Linked DNA regions of Homo sapiens. The protein of the gene in region 1 interacts with the protein of each later gene in a biochemical or structural test. Each region holds a gene or a part of one and is shown on either strand. Other genes may lie near its edges. The genes, in order: INSIG2 and PCK1.

Evidence for each region.
Region 2: the proteins of INSIG2 (region 1) and PCK1 form a complex in vitro, tested with the Homo sapiens proteins (one study listed by BioGRID).

What each region holds. Positions count from the first base shown.
Region 1 is NC_000002.12:118,091,406-118,095,326, forward strand, and holds part of INSIG2 (insulin-induced gene 2 protein), read left to right. Parts: intron 1-3,921. UniProt on the Homo sapiens protein: Oxysterol-binding protein that mediates feedback control of cholesterol synthesis by controlling both endoplasmic reticulum to Golgi transport of SCAP and degradation of HMGCR.
Region 2 is NC_000020.11:57,559,108-57,563,028, reverse strand, and holds the start of PCK1 (phosphoenolpyruvate carboxykinase, cytosolic [GTP]), read right to left. Parts: upstream 1,920-3,921; 5' UTR 1,826-1,919; intron 1,658-1,825; 5' UTR 1,618-1,657; coding exon 1,394-1,617; intron 959-1,393; coding exon 777-958; intron 334-776; coding exon 130-333; intron 2-129; coding exon 1-1. UniProt on the Homo sapiens protein: Cytosolic phosphoenolpyruvate carboxykinase that catalyzes the reversible decarboxylation and phosphorylation of oxaloacetate (OAA) and acts as the rate-limiting enzyme in gluconeogenesis.

The DNA.
Region 1 (3,921 bases):
TACTTTGCATGTCATTGGCCTTGCTAATAGAGTGAGAGAATTGTTAGATTACTGATTCTTTACTTTGTTTGGATCATGGACTTTTTTGAGTACTTTATATAAATTATGGAACTTTCATCCCAGAAAAAAATGCATATATATACAACTTTTTTGTTTTGTTTCGCATGGGGGTCTCATACCCCTTGGAATAGATGATTTCCCAGTTCCCTGCTATTTCTTAAAGCTTTTATTTTTTGTCACCAGTAATTATATACTATTGTATTATGATGTAGTTACAAAATTAGCTTTTTGAATCTCATTCAAATAAATGTCAAGCAAATGTGTTATTTTTAAGGAAAACTTTTGGGGCGAAGTAGAAAACTAAACAAGCACTGCCAGGAAAGGTTAAATAAGCAGCTGTGGTAGAAAACATAAATAAACAGAAAGTCTCTAGCTGTCTTGAAATAGAATGAAGTCTGTAGCAATCAGTGGCTCTCATTGTGGGGACAGTTTTGGTTATCACAAATAGGGGAGGGGGCATTTAGTGGGTGGGAGCCAGGGATGCTAAATGTTTTGCAATGCTTAGAACAGTCTCACACAGCAAATAATTGTCCTGCCTAAAATATCAGTGCCCTTTGACAAATGCTGGTCAGTGTGAGATGGGGGCTAGCATGACTGAAATAGCTTTTTTAAACTGAAGTTATTTTCCTTTTTAAAAATACTATTAAACATAAAATACCCCTTTCCATTAATTCCCTTTTGGAAAAATCACAAACAGAAACAAATGATACGCTGTCTCAATGTGGGTTACTCAAAGTATGCCCATCTTCTAGCAGCTGTTAGCAGCACGTGAGGGCAACGTGCTGTGTCTACTGGGATCTGGGGAAGTAAAGAGTCAACTAATGTTCTTATACAGAGTGTTAGTTTGCTATTTTTTCTTTTTACTTTAAAACATTTTCACACCTTGATCTAGTACTATTAAAGAAAATTTCAAGGTGATTTTACATTTATTCTCATCATCTTTGTGCAATTGTATAGTCACCTGCTTGTTTTGGCTTACTATCTGAGAGTGTATTATAGTTGAGATGGTATTTCAACATCTAACCATCTTTTCAGTAACCAAACACTTTTATATAGAACCATCTGCCGAAAAAGAAGTCTGAGCAGTTGAGATGGAATGGAATTCAAGGTATAGAGGCAAGAGGATGGGTTTTGGAATCAGACCTGAAGTGGAATTTCAGTTTTGATACTGCATGTCATGTGACCATAAGCAAATTGCTGAATCTCTTTGACTTGGTAGCCTCATCTGTAAAATGAGGATGATAATGTCTACCTTTATGTTTGTTTTGAAGAGTAGAGTTACTATATGTCTGGCAGGGAGTAGGCCTTCCATAAATGGGTGCCCTATAAAGAATAATGATGATGATGATGAGGAGGAGAGTTCTGTAGCTACTGAACCTTGCTAAAAGCAACCAGATGATGATGATGATGATGATGATGAGGACGAGGAGAGTTCTGTAGCTACTGAACCTTGCTAAAAGCAACCAGATTATGATGATGATGAGGAGGAGGAGGAGGAGGAGAGTTCTGTAGCTACTGAACCTTGCTAAAAGCAACCAGATGATGATGATGAGGAGGAGGAGGAGGAGGAGGAGGAGAGTTCTGTAGCTACTGAACCTTGCCAAAAGCAACCAGATGATGATGATGATGATGATGATGAAGGAGAGTTCTGTAGCTACTGAACCTTGCCAAAAGCAACCAGATGATGATGATGATGATGATGAAGGAGAGTTCTGTAGCTACTGAACCTTGCCAAAAGCAACCAGATGATGATGATGATGATGATGATGATGATGATGATGATGGAGAGTTCTGTAGCTACTGAACCTTGCTGAAAGCAACCAGATGATGATGATGAGGAGGAGGAGGAGGAGGAGGAGGAGAGTTCTGTAGCTACTGAACCTTGCCAAAAGCAACCAGATGATGATGATGATGATGATGATGATGAAGGAGAGTTCTGTAGCTACTGAACCTTGCCAAAAGCAACCAGATGATGATGATGATGATGATGAAGGAGAGTTCTGTAGCTACTGAACCTTGCCAAAAGCAACCAGATGATGATGATGATGATGATGATGATGATGATGATGATGGAGAGTTCTGTAGCTACTGAACCTTGCTGAAAGCAACCAGATGATGATGATGATGAGGAGGAGGAGGAGGAGGAGGAGAGTTCTGTAGCTACTGAACCTTGCTAAAAGCAACCAGATGATGATGATGAGGAGGAGGAGGAGGAGGAGGAGGAGAGTTCTGTAGCTACTGAACCTTGCCAAGAGCAACCAGATGATGATGATGATGAAGGAGAGTTCTGTAGCTACTGAACCTTGCCAAAAGCAACCAGATGATGATGTTGATGATGATGAAGGAGAGTTCTGTAGCTACTGAACCTTGCTGAAAGCAACCAGATGATGATGATGATGAGGAGGAGGAGGAGGAGGAGGAGAGTTCTGTAGCTACTGAACCTTGCTAAAAGCAACCAGATGATGATGATGATGATGAGGAGGAGGAGGAGGAGGAGGAGGAGGAGGAGAGTTCTGTAGCTACTGAACCTTGCCAAAAGCAACCAGATGATGATGATGATGATGATGATGATGATGATGATGATGGAGAGTTCTGTAGCTACTGAACCTTGCTGAAAGCAACCAGATGATGATGATGATGAGGAGGAGGAGGAGGAGGAGGAGAGTTCTGTAGCTACTGAACCTTGCTAAAAGCAACCAGATGATGATGATGATGAGGAGGAGGAGGAGGAGAGTTCTGTAGCTACTGAACCTTGCCAAAAGCAACCAGATGATGATGATGATGATGATGATGATGATGATGAAGGAGAGTTCTGTAGCTACTGAACCTTGCCAAAAGCAACCAGATGATGATGATGATGAAGGAGAGTTCTGTAGCTACTGAACCTTGCCAAAAGCAACCAGATGATGATGATGATGATGATGGAGAGTTCTGTAGCTACTGAACCTTGCTGAAAGCAACCAGAATGCATGGCATGCTCATATGCCTGGATTCCACAGCAAGGAATGGTCTGCAGGATCAGGTCAGGAGGAGATGTTTCAGGGCATTTTCAGTTGGTATTTAGAGTATGTTTTCCCATGAATTAGCTATACTGTGGATTAGTTTTTTTAGTCCTTTAAGCCATAGAGTTCAATTACATTATAGACTAAGTAGGTCAGTGAGGACTAGCTTGGGAACAGAATTTCCTCTTGAATGTTGAACACAGAGCTTTGATGTGGCATAGCCCCAGTAAAAAGGCCCGTTGTCTAAGTGTTTATCACATGGAACTGACAGGTTGTGGAGGTTACTAGTACTTACAGATATTCTCATTTTCATACTAGTTATTTGTAATTCAGCCCCATTCTCTGCGGTTTACATGAGGGCTTTGTTCCAAAATTCATTCAAAGGTTGTTTGATACTGGAAAACTCAGAGGAAATGTATAAATTTTATGTGATGATTAGGAGCTAGGTTTGCTCTCAAAAAGGCCTACTTTACCCTATATGGTTTGATTCAGAAAGAGTTAACCCAATTTAATTAAGCAAATATGATTATGTGGAGCTCCCACTGTGGGCTAAGCAGGAACTTTTCTGGGTGCATAGGCACAGTGATATTAATATAATAGTGAATAAGACCTTCATAAAACATTTACAATCCATAAAGCAACTATACCTTTAATTAGAAAGTAGTCATTATAAGTGCTACACTTTTTAAAATAAACTGCTTTTGGATTGAAGGAAATATCATTTCTGTACCGATTTATGAAAGTGCCAAAGATATATTGTTGGATGGGATAAAAGTAAATTACCTGTGTAGTATTTTTCCCATTTAAAAACTGTTAGTATTCATAGAAAACATATCAAATATGTGACAGTTTGGGAGAC
Region 2 (3,921 bases), on another chromosome or scaffold:
TCTGTGAACAAGGACCCCTCCCAAGTCAGTGCGCCAGGGCCCTGCTTGGGGGTCCCCGAGGCACTCACTGGGGTTTGCGTTCAGCTTTCTTTTTTATTTTGACTTTTGATTCTGAAATAATACACTTACTTTGTAAAGGCAGAGGGCACCCCACAGAATGGAGGCATTTGACAAACTCCCCATCGCCCACTGCTTCCAGGACGGGCGTGCCCATCCGCGTCATGATCCGCATGCTGGCCACCACGTAGGGTGAATCCGTCAGCTCGATGCCGATCTTTGACAGAGGCGAGCCCAGCGGCCCCATGCTGAATGGGATGACGTACATGGTGCGACCTACAGGGTGCGATGGGTGGGCACTGGTGAGAAATGACCTTGGACTTCGAACACGACCAGCATTTTTTTCCCAGGTAGACCCATTTTCACGGTGTTCCACTAACACCACCACACCCTGCTGGTCACCAGCCCCCTGGGTTAGAAGAGGCCACTGGAAAGTGAACAGCCTGCTGAAATTAAAGAGTTTTCATAAATGTGCAATTGGGTCCCACCAAGCTATTTAAAACCCATATGCATGGAACTAGTTTTCACGTTTGTATAAGACAGTCTGTAAAAGCAGAAGAGGGATGTGCATTTTCAATACATTGCCAACTTCATGTATGGAACTGAAAGACATCTGAGGTGGTGGGAGCTTCCATTATTGTTTGAATTACCATTAGGATAGATGTAAATAAGAAAAGGCTCTCTGCTGTTTTACCCAATCAAATCAATGTTCCGCTCACCTTTCATGCACCCTGGGAACCTGGCATTGAACGCTTTCTCAAAATCCTCCTCTGACATCCAGCGACCGAGCTGGCTGAGGCCTGTTTTGGGGATGGGCACTGTGTCTCTTTGCTCTTGGGTGACGATAACCGTCTTGCTTTCGATCCTGGCCACATCCCTGGGGTCAGTGAGAGCCAACCAGCTGCAAAAATCACAGGCTTCCTTTCAGCCAAGCACCACGGGCAGCGAACCATCTCCTTCAGTACCGTGGCTTTCCATGCCTAGCAGAGTGCTGAGCACGCTAACAACAGTCCATCAGTGTGAACACACAGACCATCTAAGACATGGCCAGGTGGACATTTACTCCACTAGGACCTGGTCTGTAGGAGAGGGGCTGCCTTTTTTTTAATCAGGAATCTAGTTGGCAGAGCTTTTGTGCACACACCTCATTTAAAGCTTGGGCTGGCCCACTAATGTCACAAAATTCAAGTCTGTATGGTTCTGACCATTGCATTCATCTTCTCAAGAGTCTGAAACTACCCGAAGGCCTTCATTCACCTTTCTCCACCAACTCCCAGGAGACGCAGGGGAGCCCTGCCTGCAGGGTGCTGGGACAGGCAGCGGGGGCCGAGCTTACCAGTTGTCATACTTCTTCAGCCGCCTGAGGATGCCCTCTTCCTCCATCTGGCCCAGAAGCCGCCCATTCTCCTCCTCAGAGCCGTCACAGATGTGGATGTGATCAGGCTGACACAGCTCAGCGTTATTCTCGAGAAACTCCCTCACTGCCTGGGGTAGGCTGTCCAGGCTTCCCTGGACAACTTTGGCCGAGAGGTTCAGGCCGTTTTGCAGCTGAGGAGGCATTTCTGCAGAGTGCTGCTAAGGGGCACGAATGTGAGGTCACCTGAAATAGAAAACGCAAGCGTCCTGAACAAAAACAACAACAGACACCTTCAAACACATTCGACGGCCTTTTGCCAGGGCTGTGCATTGCCAAATAGTTATTGCTCTCAGGAAAAAAATGAGTTCATCTTTGTAATTTTTCAAAATGTAAATGCAAAGCTCTACTTACCTTTCTTCTCTTTGGATGATCTCGAAGGGAGATCCACAGGTTTCTTTCCGGGCTCTTCCCGCCAGCAAGTTTGTGTTCCCAGTGGGAAGGCCGTGCTTGGTGGCAGAACCTCCCAGCTTTAAATACTGTGGAAAAGAATAGCCCTGCCCCTCAGCTGCACCCAGGGAGGCTCGCCACTGACGTCAGGGGGCAGGTCTCTGGATCACGGCCAGGGTCAGTTATGCTTTGGGCCAACTCACTGCAACACGCCCCAGGGAGATAATCATTGAACAGATAGTTGTTAATGAATGCTGGGAGACTTCGAGCCCTCAACCAACCATAGTGAGTTTTGACACAACTTCCAACTGACTAAACCTTGACCCATTTTACTGCTGTTGCAAAACACAACACCCTTTTCTTAACAGGCAGGTGGGTCAAGGACAAGGTTGGCCGGGGCACCTGCTAGCAGCACATTTTGTGTACCAAGAGCTGCTGGTTGGCAAAACACCACAGCTATAAGATGTCACCCCATAGTCAAAGGTCACAGTCAAAGTTCATGGGAAGGATGCACCCTAACTTGGGCAAATATGTGGCTTATTGGCAAAGATTGGAAATGCCTAACCTAACTGGGGGCTAATCACTGTATTGATTGTCTGCTCTGTGCCGCCCCCGCCCCCTGCCCCGATGTAAACTCCATGAGGGCAGGGATTTCTCCCTATTTTGTTCATTTTTCTCTCTGTAGTGCTTGGCATAGAGTAGGCACAGGATGCACACATGCTGAGCACTGTTCTAAGAGCTTGGCATCATTACTACCCTCTGAGGTGGAGGCTATGAACAACCCATGTACAGATAGGGAAACTGAGGCAGAGATTGTGTAGCCACTCACAGCCGGCTGGTGGGTTGCAGAGTGAGGATCTGAACATGAGCAAGTTGGGCCCTGGAGCACCACGTCTCTCCCTGTGAGGTACCGCCACCTTTCCAGAACCTTCCCTGTGTCCTCCAGGGAGTTCTGGGCTGAGTGCAGTTACTCCTGCAGTCCACTGGCCACTGTTCTCTTCCCTGGCAAGTCTTAGAGTTTAGGGAGTGGAGGGGGCTTGGCAGTTTTGCTAGATTATATGCTTAAGCAATGAAACCTTTATAACAGTTGTAAAGAATTTGCTTTGCAAGCCATCAGACCTTCAGTCAAATTTAATGAGCTATGGAAGCTGCTTGCTGGAGTTTGGAGAACACAGGGTGAAATGTCAAAAGAACGGGGCTAGGTCTCAACCCCCCACAGCCAGCCCACACTTCCATGGAAGCCTCTCTACCTAAGATGAGGTCAGGTGGGGACTTGGCCCATCTCCCCGCTGGGGTGTGGGATGATCCCTGAGATAATCCCAGGACTGGGCTTAGAAAGAGCTGCTGTGGCAAATACAAGTCACTGTGAATGGCAGCCTCCGACCAAACTCACTTAGAGAACCCTCCTGGGGGCTTGGGTCACACTGTGTTGGGCGTGGGTCACACATCATCAAGTTCCACCAAAATTATCAACCCATTGCTATGTTTCCTGTATTCAGATTTTATTCAGCCAGTTGTGTCTTTCAGGATAAATATGATATGAGGTGCTTTTTGTTTCATTTGAAGTTATTCCCCGTTTAGGTCACTGGCATTTGTTATTAGTGGTGCTGTCATCCATACATAAGATCGTGTTGTGTCTAAACCCAACAGTGACGTGATGCTCAGTAGCCGAGGCCACTTCGTTAGCATCTGACATCAGTGAATTAGCCATCCCGATGCATGACCACAATTCCGTGACACACACATCACTCCCGGCGAGACTCATCCCACCAAATTGGTAGAAAGTCCCATTTTGCTGATAAAACGGTAACAGGTTTGAGTACCTGAAAGAGCACATAGATTGAAAACAAAAAGGGAAAGCAGAACTCATTTGGAGTCCTAAATGCGACCCATCCATTCCAGGTGCTTATGTTCTGAGTCTTCTGGGAGAGAAACAGCTAGTTCAAGTAAAACGTCAGAGCAGTGAGTCACCAACGACCTTCATCCGATCCTTTCATTACCTGCATTTACAGCGTGGAAGGACGGTAATGATTCCCCCGCAACTGTCCCTTGTCAAAATG